Regions from separate parts of the Homo sapiens genome. Here region 1 is linked to region 2. Evidence: fine-mapped expression QTL. A gene starts in region 2. The other region holds a variant in brackets. All regions are shown on one strand. Distances are between the middles of the regions. Region 1 has its middle 11 kb from the start of SGSM1. Region 2 holds the start of GSTT4 (glutathione S-transferase theta 4).

The links.
Region 1: its variant is fine-mapped to the expression of GSTT4 in testis (GTEx, PIP above 0.99).

Annotation. Positions count from the first base shown.
Region 1 is chr22:24,792,547-24,797,920 of GRCh38, forward strand. No RefSeq gene overlaps it. Among named protein-coding and RNA genes, the nearest start is that of SGSM1, 11 kb to the right of the region's middle. The variant G/A (reference allele first, on the strand shown) is at 2,922.
Region 2 is chr22:24,002,383-24,007,756 of GRCh38, forward strand. GSTT4 (glutathione S-transferase theta 4) reads right to left here and starts at 3,071. Exons shown (of 5, transcript NM_001358664.2): 1 at 2,863-3,071; 2 at 1,378-1,465. The coding sequence starts at 2,974. LOC105372959 (a long non-coding RNA gene) reads left to right here and starts at 3,169. Exons shown (of 2, transcript XR_001755457.1): 1 at 3,169-3,210; 2 at 3,336-5,374.

The DNA.
Region 1 (5,374 bases), 790 kb after region 2:
GTGCCAACATCAAGTAACACAGTACAAAACAATGACTGCCTGGGGGTGCCAACACAGGAAGAGACCCTAAGAGACAGAAACAGTTGCTCTATTGAACTGCTAGATGCAGAATTGTTTTACATTCTACTGATAGAAATGAGCTTTATACAAAATACAAATTTAAAACCTAGAATAAAATGGCTGGGCGCGGTGGCTCACGCCTGTAATCCCAGCACTTTGGGAGGCCAAGCCGGGCGGATCACAAGGTCAAGAGATCAAGACCATCCTGGCTAACATGGTGAAACCCTGTCTCTACTAAAAATAAAAACAAATTAGCTGGACGTGGTGGTGAGCGCCTGTAGTCCCAGCTACTCGGGAGGCTGAGGCAGGAGAGTGGCGTGAACCTGTGAGGCGGAGCTTGCAGTCAGCCAAGATCGTGCCACTGCACTCCAGCCTGGGCGACAGAGCAAGACTCCGTCTCAAAAAAAAAAAAAAAATTGAATAAAATCATGATAAACGCTATGAAAGAAGCAAAATGCGAAGGGGAAGCCTGCAGGGACCTGGATCCTCTGAACCCCAGAAGGAAGAGATTGACGTGTGTAAGAACTGACAGGAGGGGTTCAGAACAGGGGGAAGAGTGGCGATCCACTTTACAAGGCTGTGGCAGTCGCCCAGCTAAGAGGCAGTGATATGGGCTGGCAAATGGGAGTGGGAATAGAGGAAAGTAGACAGATTCAAGGCCCAAAGCCTGGCTGAATCAATCATACTCAACGGTGGAAAATTCAACGCTCTGCCCTAAGAGCAGGAACCAAACAAGAATGCTCTCTTTCACCACTTCCATTCAACGTTGTCCTGGAAGTTTTAGGCATGCCAATCAGGCAACATTGTATCATATTAAAAAGAAGCAAAAGGCATCCAAGTTGGAAAGAAAGAAGTAAAACTATATACATTCGCATATATAGAAATACAACCTTATTTTTGTTGTTGTTGTTTTGTTTTGTTTTGAGATGGAGTCTCGCTCTGTTGCCCAGGCTGGAGTGCAGTGGTGTAATCTCAGCTCACTGCAACCTCAGCCTCCTGGGTTCAAGCAATTCTCCAGCGTCAGCCTCCAGACTAGCTGGGATTACAGGCACCCACCACCACGCCCGGCTAATTTTTGTATTTTTAGTAGAGACTATGTTGGCCAGGCTGGTCTTGAACTCCTGACCTCAGGTGATCCACCCACCTCAGCCTCCCGAAGTGCTGGGATTACAGGCATGAGCCACAGCACCCGGCCTGAAATACAACCTTAAATATAAAAAATCTTAAGGAATCCACAGCACAGGCCAGGTGCGGTGGCTCACGCCTGTAATCCCAGCACTTTGGGAGGCTGAGGCAGGCAGATCACGAGGTCAGGAGATGGAGAACATCCTGGCTCACATGGTGAAACCCGTCTCTACTAAAAATACAAAAAAATTAGCCAGGTGTGGTGGCGGGCGCCTGTAGTCCCAGCTACTTGGGAGGCTGAGGCAGGAGAATGGCGTGAACCCGGGTGGCAGAGCTTGCAGTGAGCCAAGATGGCGCCACTGCACTCCAGCCTGGGCTACAGAGCGAGACTCTGTCTCAAAAATAATAATAATAATAATAATGAAAGAAAATAATATTCATGAATTACATACGTAATAAGGGTCTAGTATCCAGAACACATAGGGAATTTGTACAACTCAATGACAAAAAGACAAACAACCCAATTAAAAAATGGGCAAAGCACTTACGTAGATGTTTCTCCAAAGAAGATACAAAAATGGCTCACAGCATATGAAAAGATGTTCAACACATTACTCATAGGGAAATGCAAACCAAAATGACAATGAGGTATCACTTCACACCCACTAGGATGACTATAATAATAATACATTTTAAAAGTTTTGGCAAAGATGTGGAAAAATTGAAATCCCCATACATTGCTGCTAGGAGTACAAAATGGTGTAGTCACTATGGGAGTGCAAAGGTTCCTAAAATGTTAAACATAAAATTATAGGCTGGGGCCAGGCGCAGTGGCTCACACCTGTAATCCCAGCACTTTGGGAGGCTGAGGTGGGCGGATCACGAGGTCAGGAGATCGAGACCATTCTGGCTAACACGATGAAACCCCATCTCTACTAAAAAATACAAAAAATTAGCCAGGTGTGGTGGCAGGCACCTGTAGTCCCAGCTACTTGGGAGGCTGAGGCAGGAGAATGGCGTGAACTGGCGAGGTGGAGCTTGCAGTGAGCCGAGATCGCGCCACTGTACTCCAGTCTGGGTGACAGAGCGAGACTCTGTCTCAAACAAACAAACAAAAAAATTACAGGCCGGGCGCGGTGGCCCACACCTGTAATCCCAGCACTTTGGGAGGCCAAGGTGGGTGGATCACCTGAGGTCAGGAGTTCGAGACCAGCCTGGTCAACATGGTGAAACCCTATCTCCACTAAAAATACAAAAATTAGCTGGGTGTGGTGGCGGGCACCTGTAATCCCGGCTACTCGGGAGGCTGAGGCATGAGAATCACTTGAAGCCAGGAAGTGAAAGTTGCAGTGAGCCGAGATCACGCCACTACACTGCAGCCTGGGCAAGAGCGAGACTCCGTCTCAATAAATAAATAAATAAATAAATAAATAAATAAATAAATAAATTTACCATATTACCCAGCAATTCTACTTCTAGTTATATACCCATGAGAATGAAAATGAAAATATTTGTAGACACAAAAACCGGTACACAAATATTCATGGCTGCACCATTCACATTAGGCAAAAGGTGGAAACTCTCCAAACGTCCATGAGCTGAGGAATGGATAAAGAAAATGTTGTCTAGGCCAGGCGCGGTGGCTCACGCCTGTAATCCCAGAACTTTAGAAGGCTGAGGCGGGCGGATCACAAGGTCAGGAGACAAGACCATCCTGGCTAATACGGTGAAACCCC[G/A]TCTCTACTAAAAATACAAAAAATTAGCCGGGCATGGTGGCAGGCACCTGCAGTCCCAGCTACTTGGGAGGCTGAGGCAGGAGAATGGCATGAACCAGAGAGATGGAGCTTTCAGTGAGCTGAGATCACACTACTGCACTCCAGCCTGGGCGACAAAGCGAGACTCTGTCTCAAAAAAAAAAAAAAAAAAAAAGAAAATGTGGTCTAGCCATACAATGGAATATTATTCAGCCATAAAAAGGAGTGAAGTACTGCCGGGCGCGGTGGCTCACGCCTGTAATCCCAGCACTTTGGGAGGCCGAGGTGGGCAGATCACGCGGTCAGGAGATTGAGACCATCCTGGCTAACACGGTGAAATGCCATCTCTACTAAAAATACAAAAAATTAGCCTGGTGTGGTGGCTGGCGGCTGTAGTCCCAGCTACTCGGGAGGCTGAGGCAGGAGAATGGTGTGAACCCGGGAGGCAGAGCTTGCAGTGAGCTGTGATTGCACCATTGCACTCCAGTCTGGGCAACAGTGCAAGACTCCGTCTCAAAAAAAAGGAGTGAAGTACTGATAAATGGTACAACATGTATGAACTTCAAAAGACATTATGCTAAGTGAAAGAAGCCAGATCCAAAAGGTTGTTTTGTATGGTTCCCCTTATATGGAAAGCCCAGACTAGGTAAACTCATAGAGACAGAAAGCAGATTAATGGCAGTCGGGGGCAACAAGAGTGACTGTTTAGTGGGTATGAGGTTTCCTTCTGGAGTAACGAAAGTATTGTGGATCTATGTAGTGGTGATAGTTGCACAATACTTGAATGTACTGAATGTCACTGATTTGTCCACTTTAAAATGCTTAAAATGGTGAATTTTATATGAATATTGCTATAATAAATTAAAAAGGGTTGCTGATGGATAGATTTGGGCTAAGAGTGTAGGAAGGAAATCAAGACTCTTCTGGTTACCTTTACGGAGTTAAGGGCTGAAGGGGCCTTAAGTGCTCACTGCACTCCGGTCATAACTGCACACTTGCCGGGCACTGTGGCTCACACCTGTAATCCCAGCACTTTGGGAAGCCGTGGCGGGTGGATCACCTGAGGTCAGGAGTTCGAGACCAGCCTGGCCAACATGGTGAAGCCCCGTCTCTACTAAAAATACAAAAATTAACCAGGCGTGGTGGTGCATGCCTGTAATCCCAGCTACTTGGGGGGCTGAGGCAGAAAAATCGCTTGAACCCTGGAGACGGAGGTTGCAGTGAGCCGAGATCGTGCCACTGCACTCCAGCCTGGCGACAGAGCGAGACTCCATCTCAAAAAAAAAAAAAAATATATATATATATATATATATATATATATATATATATATTTATATATATATATAACTGCACCCTTTCTCTTCTTTGTCTAGGCATGCTCATCCCCACCTTGGGGACTTTGTACCTGTTCTCCCTTGCATGCACCTAAAATGATCTTCCTCCAACTCTCAGCCTCGCTGCTGCCCTCTCCATTCATAACTCAGTCATGCTCTCACCTCCCCAAATAGTACCACAAGCCTGACTGGCTTCTTCCCATCTGTCACGTCTCAGGCCACGTCACCCCGTGGACACTCACTATCACACCACCCAGCTCACATGCTTTATTGATCACATTGACCACAATCTGGTATTTTGCTGATGTGATCACTTTATTATTGCCTCTCTCTTCCCCCTGGCTCAAATGTGAGCTCCATGCAGGAAACAACATCATGTGACTTATTCATACTCTGTCCCTCATGCTGGGCACATTGTGGGCTCTCAAACAAAACACTGAAAAAATGAATGAATGAATGAATGAATGAAACTCATCTGGGAGAAAGTAGAAAAAAAAATCCAGCCTTAAGTGAAAATCAAGAAGAGAAAAGTTGAGATTGTCTATTTATGGGGAGAAGCAGGGTTCCTTTACATCCTCGATTTTAGACTTGGAAATCTGTTACAGTGAAATCACTTCATTCATCAACCTGCTGCTCACCAGGGCTGCTCATCAAAAGGAGCCACCAGGCTTTCTCTAAAAATTCCCCTGGAGCCTCCCGCCTTCATTCCCTGGGTCCAGGGTTCCCATACTCTGTGAAATCACATTCACATCATTCACCTACCAGTGAGTTCTTTCCTTCACATGCTCACACAGCATCATCATCCCATCCTGTAAAATGCTCCTTGCTCCATACCTAGGAGGCCCTGAAAAAGAAATTCATAAACCTACTGTGGTGTCACTCACCACTCACCATCTACAATGTTGACTTTTTTCTGTGCTGGCTCCCACCAGGGACCCAAGCGAAGTCTGATGCTCATACATCACCAGCAAGAGCCCCATGAGAGCCAGTGCTAATGGACGAAGTTCTGGCCTGGAATACTCCCTAAACTTCCATTTCTGTGCTTTATATAGAGGTGGCCCACCCCACCTGCTCAACCACGACTGGTTAAATCTAATCAGG
Region 2 (5,374 bases):
AGGCCTTGCTGATTGATGGCTGGTGTGGGAACCTCCGCAGAACAAGGGCTCCTTTATCATCACCAGCAGCAACCATGCCAAGGTAAAAAGGTCAGGGCATGGAGAGAGCTATCGGTTAAAAAGTGGCAGGAGAGACAGCAACTGGCTGCAAGACTCAGAACTTCTTGGCTGGGCACGGTGGCTCACGCCTGTAATCCCAGCACTCTGGGAGGCCGAGGCGGGGGGATCATGGGGTCAGGAGATCGAGACCATCCTGGTTAACACAGTGAAACCCCGTCTCTACTAAAAATACAAAAAAATTAGCCAGGCATGGTGGCGGGCACCTGTAGTCCCAGCTACTCAGGAGGCTGAGGCAGGAGAATGGCGTGAACCCGGGAGGCGGAGCTTGCAGTGAGCCAAGATAGCGCCACTGCACTCCAGCCTGGGCAACAGAGCGAGACTCCGTCTCAAAAAAAAAAAAAAAAAAAACTTCTTTGGATCCTGATCCAAACAAACTGCCAAGAAAATGTTTAGGAGATAATCATAGAGTTTTGAACAGGAGCCACATATTAGATGAAATCCAGGAATTATTGTTAATTTTATGAGGTATCTTAATGGTATCGTAGTGATGCTACGCTCTATCCTAGCCCAGGCTGGAGTGCAGTGGCGCAATCAGAGTTCACTGCAGTTCTGAACTTCCTGGCCTCAAGCGATCCTCCCGTGTCAGCCTCTGGAAGTGCTGGGATTATAGGCATGAGCCACCACACCCAGCCTGTTGCTTTTTTTTTGTTTGTTTTAAGAACTCTTATCTCTGAAAAGTATGTTCCTAAACATTTATTGATTTATTTACTTATTTATTTTTATTTTTGAGATGGGATCTCACTCTGTTGCCCACGCTGAAGTGCAACGACGCAGTCTTGGCTCACTGCATCCTCTGCCTCCTGGCTCAAGCAGTCTTTCCGCCTCAGCCTCCCGAGTAGCTGGGACTACAGGTGCAGACCACCATGCTGGCTAATTTTTGTATTTTTTGTAGAGATGGGGTTTTGCCATGTTGTCTAGGCTAGGCTGGTCTTGAACACGTGAGCTCAGGCCATCCCCTCACTTCAGCCTCTCAAAGTGCTAGAATTACAGGCATGAGCTGGCTTCTAAACATTTATGAATGGAATGATGGGGTGTCTGGGAGGCAGGGGAATAGAAATGATGTAAACTGGACCCCAAGTTGGCAAGAGTCAGAGCTGGGCGATGGATTTGTGGGGTTCCTCGTGTCCCTCATTAGTTAGTATTCACTCTCCTTTAGTGCACGTGTGAGATTTTCCATGGTCAAACAGACAAATGCTTGCACTGAACCTCCCAGGAGAAGCAGAGACAGATGGTGCAAGGGCCCCAGGGAAGACTTACCTTTCACTTAAGATAAATTTCCCATCTTTGAGGCTGGGCAGCTTCCTGAGGGGGTTGATGTCAATGTATCCTTTGCTGTGGTGGTGACCTGGGAGGGGCAGGGAAGGTCTGAGGCTGTGGGACTCCAGGGGAGAGAGAACTGAGACTCCCAGAGACCCAAACGCCTCCCTCTCTATTTTCTCAAGAAGAGGGAACTGAGGCCCGGAGGGACATTGCGTCTCACCCCAGGTCACAGGGCAAGGCAGTTGCAGAACCGGACTGCGATCAGAACTGCTGGCTCCCAGCCTGCTCCACCCTAGGTTTGGTGACTCCCGTGCCTCCTACCTGTGTCCCAGGACCAGGACGACCCTTTTACCCAGAAGCTGGAGGCCTCCAGTGCCCACCCCCAAAGCTGGATCTGAAAACACAGCCTTTGAATCACCTGAAGCCCTGAGGGCCTGGGTCCCATCCGCAATCCCATCGCTCTCACTCTGTCTCCACTTTAAGGAAGCCAGGCCCAGCACACAGCTGGACATCCAAAGGGAAGCTTCTCGGACACAATCAGGGTCATCTTAACAGGGAACCTGAGGTGGGGGCAGGAACTGAAACTCTTCCTGGACCAGCCGCCTCCAGTTGGAAACATTTCTGGGGGCTCCACTCGCAGCCCGTTCATTTCCACAGCTTCCCTGTCTCTTCCTCTGTGTTCTAGAGGCTTCTGCTTTTGCAGGCTGAGCTTTTGGAGTCCCTCTGTGCTGGGGATGGAGTTGGAGCCCACCCCTCTGACCCTCACTCAGGGTTAGTGGAGCCCTGAGCCTTTCTCAACACTGGGGAGGATGGGTGTAGACGGACTGTGCACTTCTGCCCCCTTTGCCAACCTGGTGGGCAGGTGCTGAGTTCACAAGGTCCTAGAATCCCACAAGGAAGCCAGGGTGCCTGGTGGGAGCCCAGGGAGTCCCAGCTACTGTTCCTTCCCCCTTCTCCTCGAAAAGCCTGTTCATCTGTGGCGTGGGGACTGTCATTAGTGAGCACTGACTAAGGTAGGCTGGACAAGGATGCAGCCTACAAGCCGCGTGGCATCTTTTCCTTCCCTGTGGACCTCTGGGGTGATTCCCTTGTCTCTGTCTCTGCTCCTCAGAAACGCCCCTATCAGGCTGTGCGCGGTGGCTCACGCCTGTAATCCCAGCACTCTGGAGGCTGAGGTGGGCAGATCACTTGAGGTCAGGAGTTTGAGACCAGCCTGGCCAACATGGTGAAACCCCTGTTAAAAATACAAAAAATTAGCTGGGCGTGGTGGCATGCACCTCTAATCCCAGCTACTTGGGAGGCTGAGGCAGGAGACGCACTTGAACCCAGCAGAGGTTGCAGTGAGCCGAGATAGCACCACCGTACTCCATGCTGGGCAACAGAGCGAGACTCCATCAAAAAACAAGAAAAAAAGAAAAGCCGCAATCTGTGTGTCCTGCCTCCCCCCAGGACCAGGCCTGCCAGGCAGCAGTGGGAGTTGACCTTTCAGCAGATCCACAAACTGAAAGTTGAACTGGATGTCATGCTTCTTCGAGAAGATGTAGACGGCACGGCAGGGTGCTGACAGCAGGTCCATGTAGAGCTCCAGTGCCATGTTGAGACACATGCCAGGCCCCACAGCCGCAGTTGGCCAGCCACAGACCTGGGCCTATGTCTGGCCAGAGTCCCTGGCCCTGTGCCCTCTCCGATCTGGGCCCAGGATCCTGTGTTCCCCAGGGAAACCTCTTGTTTCCCTTTGTGTTGTCATAAGGCCAGGAAGCCTGCAATTCTCACAGCATCAAGGATTCTAAGGAGGCCCAGGAGTAGGCTGGGGAGAGGCCCGTGGCAAAGGTGTGGCAGCCGTGACCCTACTCTCCCCCTTCCACGTGTGCCTGTGCCCCGTGGTGCCACCTCACAGACACCAGTCTGAGAAGGGATTATGCCTGGGAATTCCCACGGCTGGATTTTCATTGCAGAACCTGACGAAAGGGGCTTTGCAGGGTCCAGAATGAAGAGGAGGCAATGAGAATTATCCCTGGAGGATTCTAGAAGTAGAGGCTGGGAGTATCCACAGGTAAATCGAGCCTGAACTATGACTAGAAAGGAATTGGGAGAAAGAGACACAGGTGAATCGAGCCTGAACTATGACTAGAAAGGAACTGGGAGAAAGAGACACAGGAAACTGTGAGCTTTGGGAGCAATGGGGACACCACCACCAGGAAGTCAGGGGGCACTCAGCCGGTGTGTGCCACACAGAGGAGCCTAGAAACTTCCTGGCCTTGGTTGGGGCTGCAGTGGCCAGACTGTGTACCTGGTGGCCAAGGAAGGTAACTAGAGCCCCACGTAGAGGACTGAGTGCCACTCACTCTATGCTGTGATCTAATAGGTCTAGGCTGAGAAATGGGACTGACCCCACTTCTGGTGACAGAGTAAGCCTGGAGACAAGCGAAGAGCATGCAGTGTGTTTATTGCAGACAGCAGGGTGCAGTGGAGTGGGCTGCACCCACTGCACCTGCTTCTGGGCCAGCTGGGGGTCCCGCCAAGCCTCACTGTGGTTCAGAGGCTGGAGTATGAGCTTGTGGGCCTCCAGCAAGAGCTCAGTACCAAGGGCAGCCGCCACACGGGCCTGCCACACTGCCAGCCGGGGCAGTCTTGGAAGAGGTCGCAGCCAACGGCAGTGGGCTGGGAAGACAGGGCAGCTGGGGTTGGGGCTCAGCCCCATGCCCAGAGTCCCCCCAGAGGGCAGGTGGGTAGGAAAGCTTCACCTGCATCACCTCCGTCAGCACCAAGTCTTCCAGGGAGATCTGCTCCATTGCCAGGAAGGGCCTGGCCACCAGCACCCCCCAATCCAGGTGCTGCAGGGCTGGCATCAGCCTCCCCAACAGCCGCTCCAGCTGTGCAGCATCTGCAGGCTGTCCGGAGAAGTGGGGCAGGAGAGACTGGGCTGGGAGGAGAGGAGCAACTTAACCCAGACTCTTGGAAGCCTCTTGGGCCTCCTCTCCATCCCTTCCCGGCTGCCACTCATTAGTGATGTCCTCTGGGGCTCTGTGTTCAGAAGGTTTCTAAGGATTCATTCAGGCTTAGGGGAAGGAGTACTGTGATAGATTAGTTATGTCTGCTGAGGACAGTGGAAGTGAAGCTAATATGTAATATGTACCAACTGGTGCCTTCCATCTCTGGGGGTCCAGGCCCCTGCCCCAGCCTGCATGACAGGGCCTAGGAAGCTCACCTTGCACAGGTAGACATTGGTGGCAGGCAGCTGGATGGTGACATGCTTCCACGCCAAGTACTCATCCACGCAGGTGCGGGCTTGCAGCTCAGGTGGGTACCAGTGTCCCCGTATCTGGTACTTTCGACTCAGGTATAAAACGATGACCATGCTGTGGGCAGGGGGTGTCAGAGATCTTTTCTCCAGCCTGTCAGGGCCAGGTGGCTTCATTGCTCATACTCAGGGTGATTTGACCAGGTTTTCTCCCCACCTTCACCTTCAGGGGAGGACCTCCCCTATACTGCAACTCCCTCCAGGCAGTATCTCCCCACGACCAAACCACTCTGTTTCTCCATTTCCAACTCTGATCCTCCCTGGGCCCATGTTTCCACCTCCCCTCCCAGTTACCATACCATCCTGCCCTCTGTGCCCAGGCCCCACTCCCTGGCATCAGGGTCCCCACTCAGAGTGCCTGCCGTGTGGGCCCTGCCCAAAAGGTCTCCAAGTTCCCTTCCTAGTGCCCCAGAACACTAGGTGCCCATTTTCTATCCTCAGGTAAGCCCTGGGAGGTGGATACATTATTCCTCCCACTCCGTTTTACAGAGGAGAAACCTGGCACACAAAGTTCTGTGATTTCCCCAAGGGCATGGATTGAGGAAGTGGTGAGCTGGGATTGAATGTGGAGTCTCCCCTGGGTCTGCCCAGCTCCTAGGACTCTGAAAGGATGAGCTGGGGACATTTGGGGAGGAGCCAGCCTCAAGCCTGGGCCTTGCCCGCTGGCTTCAGGTTGTCCAGGTTTATCCGGGT